2 separate regions of the Homo sapiens genome follow, and region 2 is linked to region 1. The links come from fine-mapping of genetic effects on gene expression. Tissue or cell type: testis. Region 1 holds a variant in brackets; the other region holds the start of a gene. All regions are shown on one strand. Distances are from middle to middle.

Region 1 (5,127 bases):
GCCTCCCCAGACCCCAGGCTCCTCCCAGCTGCACCTGGGCTCCCTCTGGGCCTCAGCTCGGATCTCTTGGCTTCCCCCCACCTGCCACTGGCCGATGCTTTCCACGCGCTGGCCGAAGGGCCGCTGCAGCCCGGTGCACAGCTTGAAGGCGTCGCTGCGGATCTCAATGAGGTTGTTGACCAGGGCGCACAGCGCCGCCAGGGGGAAGGCGGACGAGAAGAGCACAACGTAGCCGAACTGCACGAACATCTCCTGGTAGTCCTGGAACGTGTCCTGCGAGTGGGCGGGCCTCAGACCTGGAAGCCTCTTCCCTGGGACAATCTTTCTCCCATTGAGCCCGCCTCCCTCAGATTATCCCATGTGGACCCAGGGCCTGTCCCCATCCTCAGCCAGCCCAGAGGCTTCCTGTATCTGGCTAGGCCTTCCTCTCCTGCAGCATCCCAACATCAATGGCCCTGTTATCACCACTCCCACCCCCACGGCCTTCACCCTCGGACGGTGTGTCCCGTCCCCGGCGAGGCCCCGCCCCCTGCGAGGCCCCGCCCCCTCCTCACCTCGTACTTCTTCATACAGCTCTCCAGCTCTGCCTGGGTGAGCTGGGGCGAGTGTTCCTCCTCCGGCGGGTCAATCCAAGACGACCGGTTCTGCCGTCTCTGCCTACGGGTCGAATCGCTGTTGGAGCCGGGTTCCGGGTCCGGGCCCCCGTCGGGCCCCTGGTCTCGGCCCTCGCCCCCGGCCCGGCGGAACAAGATGGCCGGGGGCTCCCGTTCAGGGCTGCCGGGAGCCCCCTCCGCCTCGTCGTCCTCCTCGGCCAGGGTGAACACTCCCGGCTCCAGCCCCTTCTCCACCATAGTGGGGCTCCCTTCCTCCAGGAGGGCCTCCGGGCTTGGGCCGGGCCGACGCCGCCCCGCGCCGCGCTCAGCGAAGCTGACCTTCTTCAGCCGGAGCCCGCAGTCCAGGAGGCCCCCTTCCTCGCCCTCCTCCTCGTCCTCCTCTTCCTCCTCGTCCTCCTCCTCCTCGTCGTCCTCGTCCTCCTCCTTGCCCCCTGGAGGCCCGTCCCCCTCCTCCCCGCCTTCCCCCGCCCGCCGCCGCTCCACCAGCGCCGCCTCCTCCTCCTCCTCCGGCGCCCCGCAGCCCCCGCTGAGGCACCTGCGGCCCCCGCCCCCGCTGCCGCCGCCCCCGCCCTCATCCGCCTGGGGTTCGAGGCGGCGGGGCGCAGGGCGCCGGAGGCTCAGGAGGCCAAGCAGGGCTCGGGCCAGCTCCCAGACGGCCCGCAGGCCCAGCTCGCCGCGGCCCAGGCGCCGGTACAGGTGCGGCTGCAGGACCTCGCGCACGTTCTGGAGGAACTGGCGGGTGATCAGCAGCGTGGCCAGCATCTGGGGGCAGGAAGGGGAAGGAGAGAGGCGCGTGGGGGGCAAGCGGGGCGCCGGGATCGGGGGACTCACCCTCCCTGGGCGCCCCGCCGGAGCACCGTGCCCAGACACACGCCGAATCCGGTTCCTAACTCCGCTGCTTTGGACGCGCCTCGACGCGAGGCCCCCAGCGCTCAGCCACAAAATACAGCCTGGCACGCGCAGCGCTCCTCGCCCACCTCACGGGCAGGCCCAGCGCGTCTCCACCCCACCGCGGGCTCTGTCGGTGCACTGGGCCGCGTGCGCCCCCAGCCGCCTGCACCTGCTTGCTGGCCGCCCCCGACCCCAGATTCCCTCCGCGCATGCGCCCTCAGCTCGGCGCGCCAGGCCCCCAGCACAGCCACGCTGCCCACCCCGGCGAGGACCCACGGGCTCGCCACCTGCCCGTACTTTGGCCCGGGCCGCGAGCAGGAGGCCCCGGAGGGAGAGGAGGAGCAGGCGGAACCGCAGGGCCGCGAGCGGGACCAGCACCGCCTGCAGCTGCCGCTCGAGGCTCTGGGACAGGGACAGGACGAGCAGGAGCTGTGAAGGGACCGACGGACAGATGGACGGACAGATGGGGGGACGACAGGCAGAGAGAGGACGCACAGACGACGGACAACGGACGGACAGACAGGAGAGAAGGATGGAGGAGGGGAGGGAGGGGCTGGAGAGCCCTTGGACCCCTTGTGCCGGGTCTGGCCCCTCGCTGGCCGCCATGGGGGCAGGGGGGACTGCCGCTGGGGCGGGGGTCTCACCTCTTTCAAGCGCTCCATGTCCTTGAGGTAGAAACCGATGTAGAAGAGGCTCAGGTACGAGTTGACAAACTGGAACTGCAGGAAGGAGGCAGGCGGTGGTCATCCTGCACCCCCACCCGACTCCTTGGAGCCTTCCTTGTGCCCCATACAGACGGCACAGCTTCCCCGTTGTCCCCCTGCCTGTCCGATGGTGGTGACTCACCAGGACAACTTTGATGATGAGGTGCTTCTCATAGGCGCTCTCCAGCCGGTAATTTTCTAGGGGCCAAGGGGGGGAGTGAGGGGGCAGCCGCGGTCCCCCCAAGGGTGGCAGGGATCCCAAGGGGCAGTGGAGACCTTCCTCCCAGAGACCCCCTGGCAGGTCGTACCCATGTCATTGAGCCAGATGGCTAGCTTCTTGTAGCCCTCGGCACTCACACTGACAAGCAGGGCCAGCATGACCTTAGGCAGGAATCGGGCGAGACGGGGCAACCCCTTCACGCTCAGCACCAGCTCCTGCGGGAGAAGGGGGTTCAGGGCTCATCCCAGCTGCAGGGCTCAGCCCAAGGTGGAGCTAGGTACCAAGGACAGGGCGGGTGAGGGTATGGGGGGTCACCTGCAGCTGGAAGCAGCCAAGCATGAGCAAGAAGACACAGACGAGGCACGCCAGGCACAGGGGGAGGCTCACAAGCAGCTGGAAGAGCAGCCGCTTCCAGGGCGGGTAGTAGAACTCCTCGGCCCGCGTGATGGGGCTGATACGTCGCACGCCCTGATGGTGGGCAAAGACCGGGCCCAGCATGAGCTCAGAGGGGCCACCTCTGCCTTCTGCACCCCTCCCTATCCTCAGAACTCAATTTCCCTCCATCATGCGGAGGTGACCCTCTCAGGTCACCCACCTAGGGCACTGTTCCCAGTCCCTCAAATCCAACTTCCACCTCTCCCC[C/T]TGGGGAGCACACAGAGCCCGCCTCGGTTTGGCATACCCTCTTTGATGAAACAATCCTGTTTCACACCTCTCTGCCTTTGCTCCTGCAGTGCCCCCCACCATTTACCTTTGTCCTGTCTCCATGACCCTGGACTCAGCCCCCAACTGACCCTGAACTGGGGGCGTGGCTCCTCCACGGCTTCCCCAGGTGAGTCCAGCGTCCCCCACTTATATGCCAGCTCAGCCCCTCTCCGCTTCCATTCCTCTAGGAACAGCGTCGACCAGATCACGTTGAAGAGGGCAAAGACCACGCAGGAAACATCCCGGCTTGTCTGTGAGTGGCAGAGAAGAGTTGAGTCATTGTTTGTGCCAGTCCAGAAAGGAGGGCGCCTCTGGATCCCCCAGACCTTGCAGGGTCCCTGCCCAGTACCTGATCAGCCTCTGTGAATGTGTACAGGACAGACCCGAAGACAGCTGGGTATACCATAGCCGACGTGTAGAAGCCCAGCCAGGCGAAGTACATGGCAATTTTCACACCAAAGTAATCACAGATGTCATCTGCCAGGGGACAAGTGGGTCTCAGTCACCCCCTGCCTGTCTGCTGGGACTCCCTCCCACCCCCCAGCCCAGGCAGCACCTAGAGGCTGGTTTTCACACACGGCCTGCACCCATGACTTCATGAGGCGGTTCAGAATACGCTGCTCGTGGACAGGGAACACCTGCTGGATGATCCCACGTGCTGCCAGCTCCGGGACTGTGGAGGGAGGAGCACAGGTGATCCCCGCCCCTCCACCTGTGCCTAGCCTGGCTAGCCCCTCTTTGTCTGAAACCCAAGTCACAGCTTTTTGCCTGCTCTTAAACCTCTAGAGCTCTTTCCAGGGGAGAAGTTCTAGACGGATAGAAGATCTGATTCTCCTTCAGAAATTGTAGGTGCAGGGGCAGGCGGGGAGAATGTAAAGGAACTGGGAGAGTGGGGTTCTGGTGAGGAACCATGTTTTTTTTTTTTTTTGAGACAGTCTCACTCTGTCGCCCAGGCTGGAGTGCAGTGGCGTGATCTCCGCTCACCGCAACCTTCAAGCGATTATCGTGCCTCAGCCTCCGGAGTAGCTGGGATTATAGGCGCCCACCACCACGCCCAGCTAATTTTTGTATTTTAGTAGAGACGGGGTTTCGCCATGTTGGCCAGGCTGGTCTCAAACTCCTGACCTCAAGTGATCCACCTGCCTCGGCCTCTCAAAGTGCTGAGATTACAGGTGTGAGCCACCGCGCCCGGCTTTTTTTTTTTTTTTTTTTTTTTAGACGGGGTCTAGCTGTGTCACCAGGCTGGAGTGCAGTAGTGCGATCTCAGCTCACTGCAACCTCTGCCTCCCGGGTTCAAGCGATTCTCCTGCCTCAGCCTCCCGAGTAGCTGGGACTACAGGCGCGCGCCAACCACACTTGGCTAATTTTTGTATTTTTAGTAGAGATGGGGGTTTCACCATGTTGGCCAGGATGGTCTCGATCTCCTGACCTCGTGATACGCCCGCCTCAGCCTCCCAAAGTGCTGAGATTACAGGCGTCAGCCACCGCGCCCGGCCTTATTTTTTACTTTATTTATTTATTTGTTTGAGACAGGGTCTCGCTCTGTCACCCAGGCTGGACAGAATGCAGTGGCGCTACCATGGCTCACTGCAACCTCGAACTCCTGGGCTCAAGTGATGCTACCGCCTGGACCTCCCAAAGTACTGGGAGCCACTGCGCCTGTTCCCCTGCTTTAAATAAAGCTCAGTTTGTGGACCCGAACGTCTGAGGAATGGTAAAAACTTGCTGTCGGAAGGTGAACTTGGGTGCCTAGTTTCCTGGAGGGGAATCCAACGCCCAGAGCCGCACCACTCTGTAAGTGGAGTGCTGTCCATGGTTCCTGCCTCCACTTTATCCCAAACCCAGAAAAGGGCCTCTCCTGGACCCACCTCCCAGAAATAAGCCCCACCCTTTGGCCAAAGCCTCGCCCCCTCAGCTCATTGGTTCCCAACCCTTTGCCAACCCCTAACTGGTTGGACATAAGCCCTGACCTCCTGTCCTGATAAGCTGTCCTCTC
Region 2 (5,127 bases), 27 kb before region 1:
GCAATCTCCTGCCTCAGCCCTTAAGTAGGTGGAACTATATGCGTGCACCTCCTCACCTAGCTAATGTTTGTACTTTTTGTAGAGCTAGGGGGTTCTCCCTATGTTGCCCAGGCTGGTCTCAAACTCCTTGCCTCAAGATATCCTCCCGCCTTGGCCCCCGAAAGCACTGGGATTACAGGTGTCAGTGGCATCTCAGAGTCTCCCTCTGTCGCCCAGGCTGGAGTGCAGTGACACAATCTCGGCTCACTGCAACCTCCACCTCCTCGGTTCAAGTGATTCCTCTGCCTCAGCCTCCCGAGTAGCTGGGACTACAGGCGCGTGCCACCACGTCTGGCTAATTTTTGTATTTTTGGTAGAGACGGGGTTTCACCACCTTGGCCAGACTGTTCCCGAACTCCCAACCTCAGGTGATCCGCCTGCCTCGGCCTCCCAAAGTGCTGGGATTACAGGCGTGAGCCACGGGGCTCAGCCAAAAACTCAGTATTTTGTGACTGTAGTCCCTGCTGACCCCATCCCTCACCCCCACCCCACATGCCAGGGTTCACTTACCCGTAGGAATGGCCAATGAGCACATTTCGCTTCTTGGCATAGCGCTTGAAGATTGCTCGCATGTCCTCAGCCAGCGCATAGAAGGTGTAGGCTGCGGCCACCTGGGGCGCAGAGCTGGCCCCGTGGCCGGCCAGGTCAGGAGCCACCACCTCATAGCCTAGGCGCACAAAGAAGTCCAGCTGCTCCTTCCAGATGGCCAGGGAACCGCCGACACCATGGATGAAAAAGAGCACCACGTCGGCCTGGGCGCCTTTGCAGCTAGTGATGCGCTTCTCACAGTCAATATGGATGGTCCTCTTGGGGCGCCTGGCTCGCCGCCGCCGCCCACCACTGCCACTGCCGCTGCCGCTGCCTGCGCTGCCGGGGGCCAAGCGGCCATCGCTGCCCGCCGGATCTGCCAGCTCCACCTCCAGGGCGGCCGGCGGCTCCCCAGAGCCATTCTGCCCGTGTAGGAGGTCGGCTCGAGGGGCTCGGCCCAGGTTTTCCACCAGCAACCGCCCATTGCGGTACACGGTGATCCGGCGCTGACAGCGGACCAAGCCGGAGAGGTCCCCCTGGGCTGCATCCGAGGATGCGGATGATGGTGGAGGTGGGGCAGCGGCTGGGGCGGGTCCTGCATGCTTCACCCGCAGCACGCGGCCGGGCTTGACCTCTACAAAGGTGTAGCCATCGCTGGACTCGACGCTCTCCAGTGGCCCCACGGCGTTGGGGGGCGTGCCCAGCAGGCAACAGAAGATACCGTCGGTCACCCCGGTCAGCATGGTGTGTCCTGTGAGTGAGGACAGCAGCCAGTTCAGGTGCTGTCTCAATGAGAACCCTGCACCGTGCAGCAGGCACTCCCTGAGCCTTGGGAGAACTGTTTTAGACTCCAGTTTGGGGAGCGCCAGATCAAGTGAGCCACGGCACTGAGATTTTTTTGTTTGTGTGTGTGTGTGTGTGTGTGTGTGTGTGTGTTTTTGAGACAGTCTCGCTTTGTCATCCAGGCTGGAGGGCAGTGGCCGGATTTCGGCTTACTGCAACCTCCCCCTCCTGGGTTCAAGCGATTCTCTTGCCTCAGCCTCCTGAGTAGCTGGGATTATAGGCAGGTGCCACCATGTCTAGCTAATTTTTGTATTTTTTGTAGAGATGGGGTTTCACCATGTTGGCCAGGCTGGTCTTGAACTCCTGACCTCAAATTTTCCTCCTGCTTCGGCCTCCCAAAGTGCTGGGATTATAGGTGTGAGCCACCGTGCACTGACATGTTTTGTCTGAGCAGTGCCTTTGTGGTAGTTACCCTCCTGGGTCACCCTAGTCTATCCTCAGAGAGAAAGACTTGGCTATGGCTTACCCCACAGGGTGTCCACAGGGAAGGTGGTGGCGTCTTGTGTGGGGATGTTCCTGGAGAAGGGGACATTGTGGCAAATGTGGACCAGCCGGAAGACACCCCCTCCCCCCAGCTGGAGTTTATACCATTTATGGCCTCCTAACTCATTCATTCAGGTATACACTAACTCATCCATTCAGGTATACACTAACTCATTCATTCAGGTATACACTAACTCACTAACTCATCCAGGTATGCACTCACTAACTCACATATCCCCAGGGCCTCCTAAGGCATCTAAAATATGCAAATCTTTGGTGAGCCCCCAGTGAGGCTCCTGGCTCTGAATTTGACTCCTGAAAGGTGAGGCCCTAGGAGAGGGGGATGGGGACTGAGCCACAGAAAGCCTTGCTCAGCTCCCCTAGACCGGGGTGAGCCGGGGTCTGTTTCATAGAGGGCCAAGCTGAGGCCCAGACACTCTGAGAGGAAGCTAGACTCTGAACTTCCTCCTTGGCACCCTGGATTCTGGGGATCTGCTATACAAGTCCCCAGAGGTGGCGAAGAGGATGGGAGAGGCAGGGCCCTGGCTGGGGGCCTCCAAGCCTCCATCCCACTCCTTGGGCCACCCCCGCCCCCGTGTCCATGGCAACCACAGGCGGTTACATAACCTAAGGGGGGGATACCCGAGCAGTGCACCCCCATTGTCGAGGTGTCTAGGGCCTGGAGATGGGACCAGCTGCCTGCCTGCCCCCTACCCCAGGTTGGGCGCCGCTAAGGTAACGCACGCCCGAGACTGAGCCGCAGTGGCCCCAGACATACTGGAGGGGAAGCAGGCCATGCCCCCCACCTCGAGTGGGGCCCTAATCCCGGATTGTGGAGGGCAACGCACAGGCGCCACCCCAGCCCCGCTTCCCCGCCCCCGGCCCCCGCCTTCCAGGTGTTCGTCATCCCTGCAGCGGGGTCGAGCCCACTGGGGCTCCGTGGCTTCCTACGAGCCCAAACGCGGGGTTGGTGGACACCACTCCTCCGAAGTGGAGGCCCCGGGGCTTCGATCTCTCCTTTTGGGGCCCGTTCCCCGCTCACCTCATCGAGGGCCGCGGGGCCCGGGTCGGGGCGGAGGGGTCCCAGGCGGAGAAGCCAGCGTCCGCCTGCTGGCGCCGTTTACATGGTGGCGCGGGGTCAGGCCGGGTGCGTCTACGCGGGCGGGCACCTGCCCCTGGCGGTCAGCGCAGGGGCATCCCGCGGCCGCCGAAACAGCCGGCCCTTTAAGTTCCTCCCCCGAGTAGGCGGAGCCACGTGCCGACGGGCGGGCACTTCGGCCTATCGCAGCTGCGGACTGACCTGGCCTAGTTAGGAGCCCAATGAGAGGCGGCAATTCCGTAGTGGAGGCGGGCTCTGGGAGCAACGGCCCCGCCCCTTTTGGGGGTTCACCGAGGTTGGGGGAGGGATGGGGCCTGGCTCAAGGCGGAGAAGGGGGTTGCAGTCTAGGGTCTGCGGGACGCCTGGGAGTGTGCGGCCGGGGCCCTCTCTCTGCAAATGGGTCTCCCAAGCCCTTGCCCCCCAGCCCCTGCCTCCCAATTGCCCTGTTCCTCTCCAAACGAGGCCCCCATACTCTTCTCTCTGTATTGACCTTTCCATTCTAGAAGCAGAGACTCCAAGATCTTTTTCCAATCTCCGGTGGGGAAACTGAGGCTCATAAAGGGCACAAGAGCATAAATCAAGCAAGGAGCAAAGCTGGGACTTGAACCCAAGGCTGTGTGATTCCAAACCCTGGGAACCATTATTTGCTAACCTCCCCCCTACGCCCCCCCCTTTTCTTTTGGTAGGGACGAGGTCTCGCTATCTTGCCCAGACTGGTCTCGAACTCTGGGCATCAAGCAATCCTCTCGTCTACGGCCTCCCAAAGGGCTGAGATCACTGGCGTGAGCCATCGTGACGGGCTTCTCTAAAGCTTTCAAGGAAAGTCTTGGAGCTGTGGGTAATTAGAGAGTTTGAATTTCATAATCAGCCGATTTAACCCATGGCTGCCATGGTTCTGAGAAGGGCTGATAGCAAGAGGCAGGCATCCCAGCTCTGTGGTACCGGCGGGGCCATGGTAGGCCCTCAGGAGAGCTCAGGTCTCAAATCCAGCCTCTGCCCTTTGCTGATGTGTGACCTCGGGCAAGTTACTTCACTTTCCTGAGCCTCCGTTTATTTCTCTATGAAATTAATCCTCTCATAAGTTTGCTACGCAGGTAAAGCACTCATCATAGTGTCGTGCATATAACAAATGCTCCATATATTATGGGCATTATTATAGTGGTGATGTTTTGCTAAACGATGCTACAGGTAGGATGGGCTTCGGAGGACGAGGGGTTAAATGCTCCTTGCTGCTTGGCCACTCACATCCCCTGGAATTTGCTGCCAGAGCTGGATTCCGTCCAGACACCTACTCTTGCCCACTAAGGGCACTTCTGGGAGACTATACAGTTTATTCATTTAGCAAACACCTCTCTGCATGAACCCCAAGCTGGCACTTGTAGGGATACAGCCCCAGGCCCCTGGCCCTTGAGGAGCCCTTGAACTTGGGGGAGAGTCAAGGGAAAGCAGTCGGGCCAGAAGAATGGACAGCGGTTGAGAGAAGACGACTCCTTTTTTTTTTGAGAAAGGATCTCACTCCGTTGCCCAGGCTGCAGTGCATTGGCGCTATCATTGCTCACTACAGCCTGGATCTCCTGGGTTCAGGGAATCCTCCCACCTCACCTTCAAGTACTTGAGACTATAGGTGGTTGCTACCATGTCCCCAGGCTGGTCTCAAACTCCTGGCCCCAAGGGATCCTCCCTCCTCAGCCTCCCAAAATGCTGGAATTACAGGCATGAGCCACACCTCACTCAGCCCTTGGAGAGGAAAGGATTTTTAAAGGGCGGATAGGGGAACACCAGGCAGAGAGGAGAGTGTGGCTGAAATGTAAGATGGTGTGTGTAGAGGGTTTTGCATGCCTGATGGAAGGGCTGAGCAGGTTTTACCTGGGGAAATGGGGAGCCAAGGATAGTGTGTGAGTAGGGGAGGGGTTCAGATCTGAGTATCAGAAAATTTTTCTTCCTTTTTTTTTTTTTTTTTTTTGGTTCTAACAACAGAGGAGAATTCTTCTAGGGCCCAAAATGGGGGCAAGATTGCCAAAGACAAGCTTGCAATCCCTGAGTTTACAGATTGAGAAAGCCCAGAGTGGCGCAGGGACCACCCCAAGGACACGCAGCGAGCTTGAACTCAGGCCTCCTCGGCTTCCTGCCAAGAG

What was found. PIP is the estimated chance that this variant, and not a neighbour inherited with it, causes the effect.
Region 2: it holds the start of ABHD8, and the variant in region 1 is fine-mapped to the expression of ABHD8 in testis (GTEx, PIP above 0.99).

What each region holds. Positions count from the first base shown.
Region 1 is chr19:17,327,608-17,332,734 of GRCh38, forward strand. It overlaps ANO8 (anoctamin 8), which reads right to left. Exons shown (of 18, transcript NM_020959.3): 6 at 3,688-3,804; 7 at 3,481-3,608; 8 at 3,221-3,382; 9 at 2,745-2,897; 10 at 2,518-2,644; 11 at 2,352-2,407; 12 at 2,150-2,224; 13 at 555-1,376; 14 at 82-273. Among named protein-coding and RNA genes, the nearest start is that of ANO8, 4.7 kb to the right of the region's middle. RefSeq lists enhancers at 1-273, 274-802, 803-1,330, 1,331-1,858, 1,859-2,386 and silencers at 555-724, 1,194-1,353. The variant C/T (reference allele first, on the strand shown) is at 3,072.
Region 2 is chr19:17,300,307-17,305,433 of GRCh38, forward strand. ABHD8 (abhydrolase domain containing 8) reads right to left here and starts at 3,119. Exons shown (of 5, transcript NM_024527.5): 1 at 2,936-3,119; 2 at 550-1,318. The coding sequence starts at 1,310. It also overlaps a transcript of MRPL34 not described here. RefSeq lists enhancers at 655-1,155, 1,156-1,656 and silencers at 2,014-2,308, 2,692-3,241.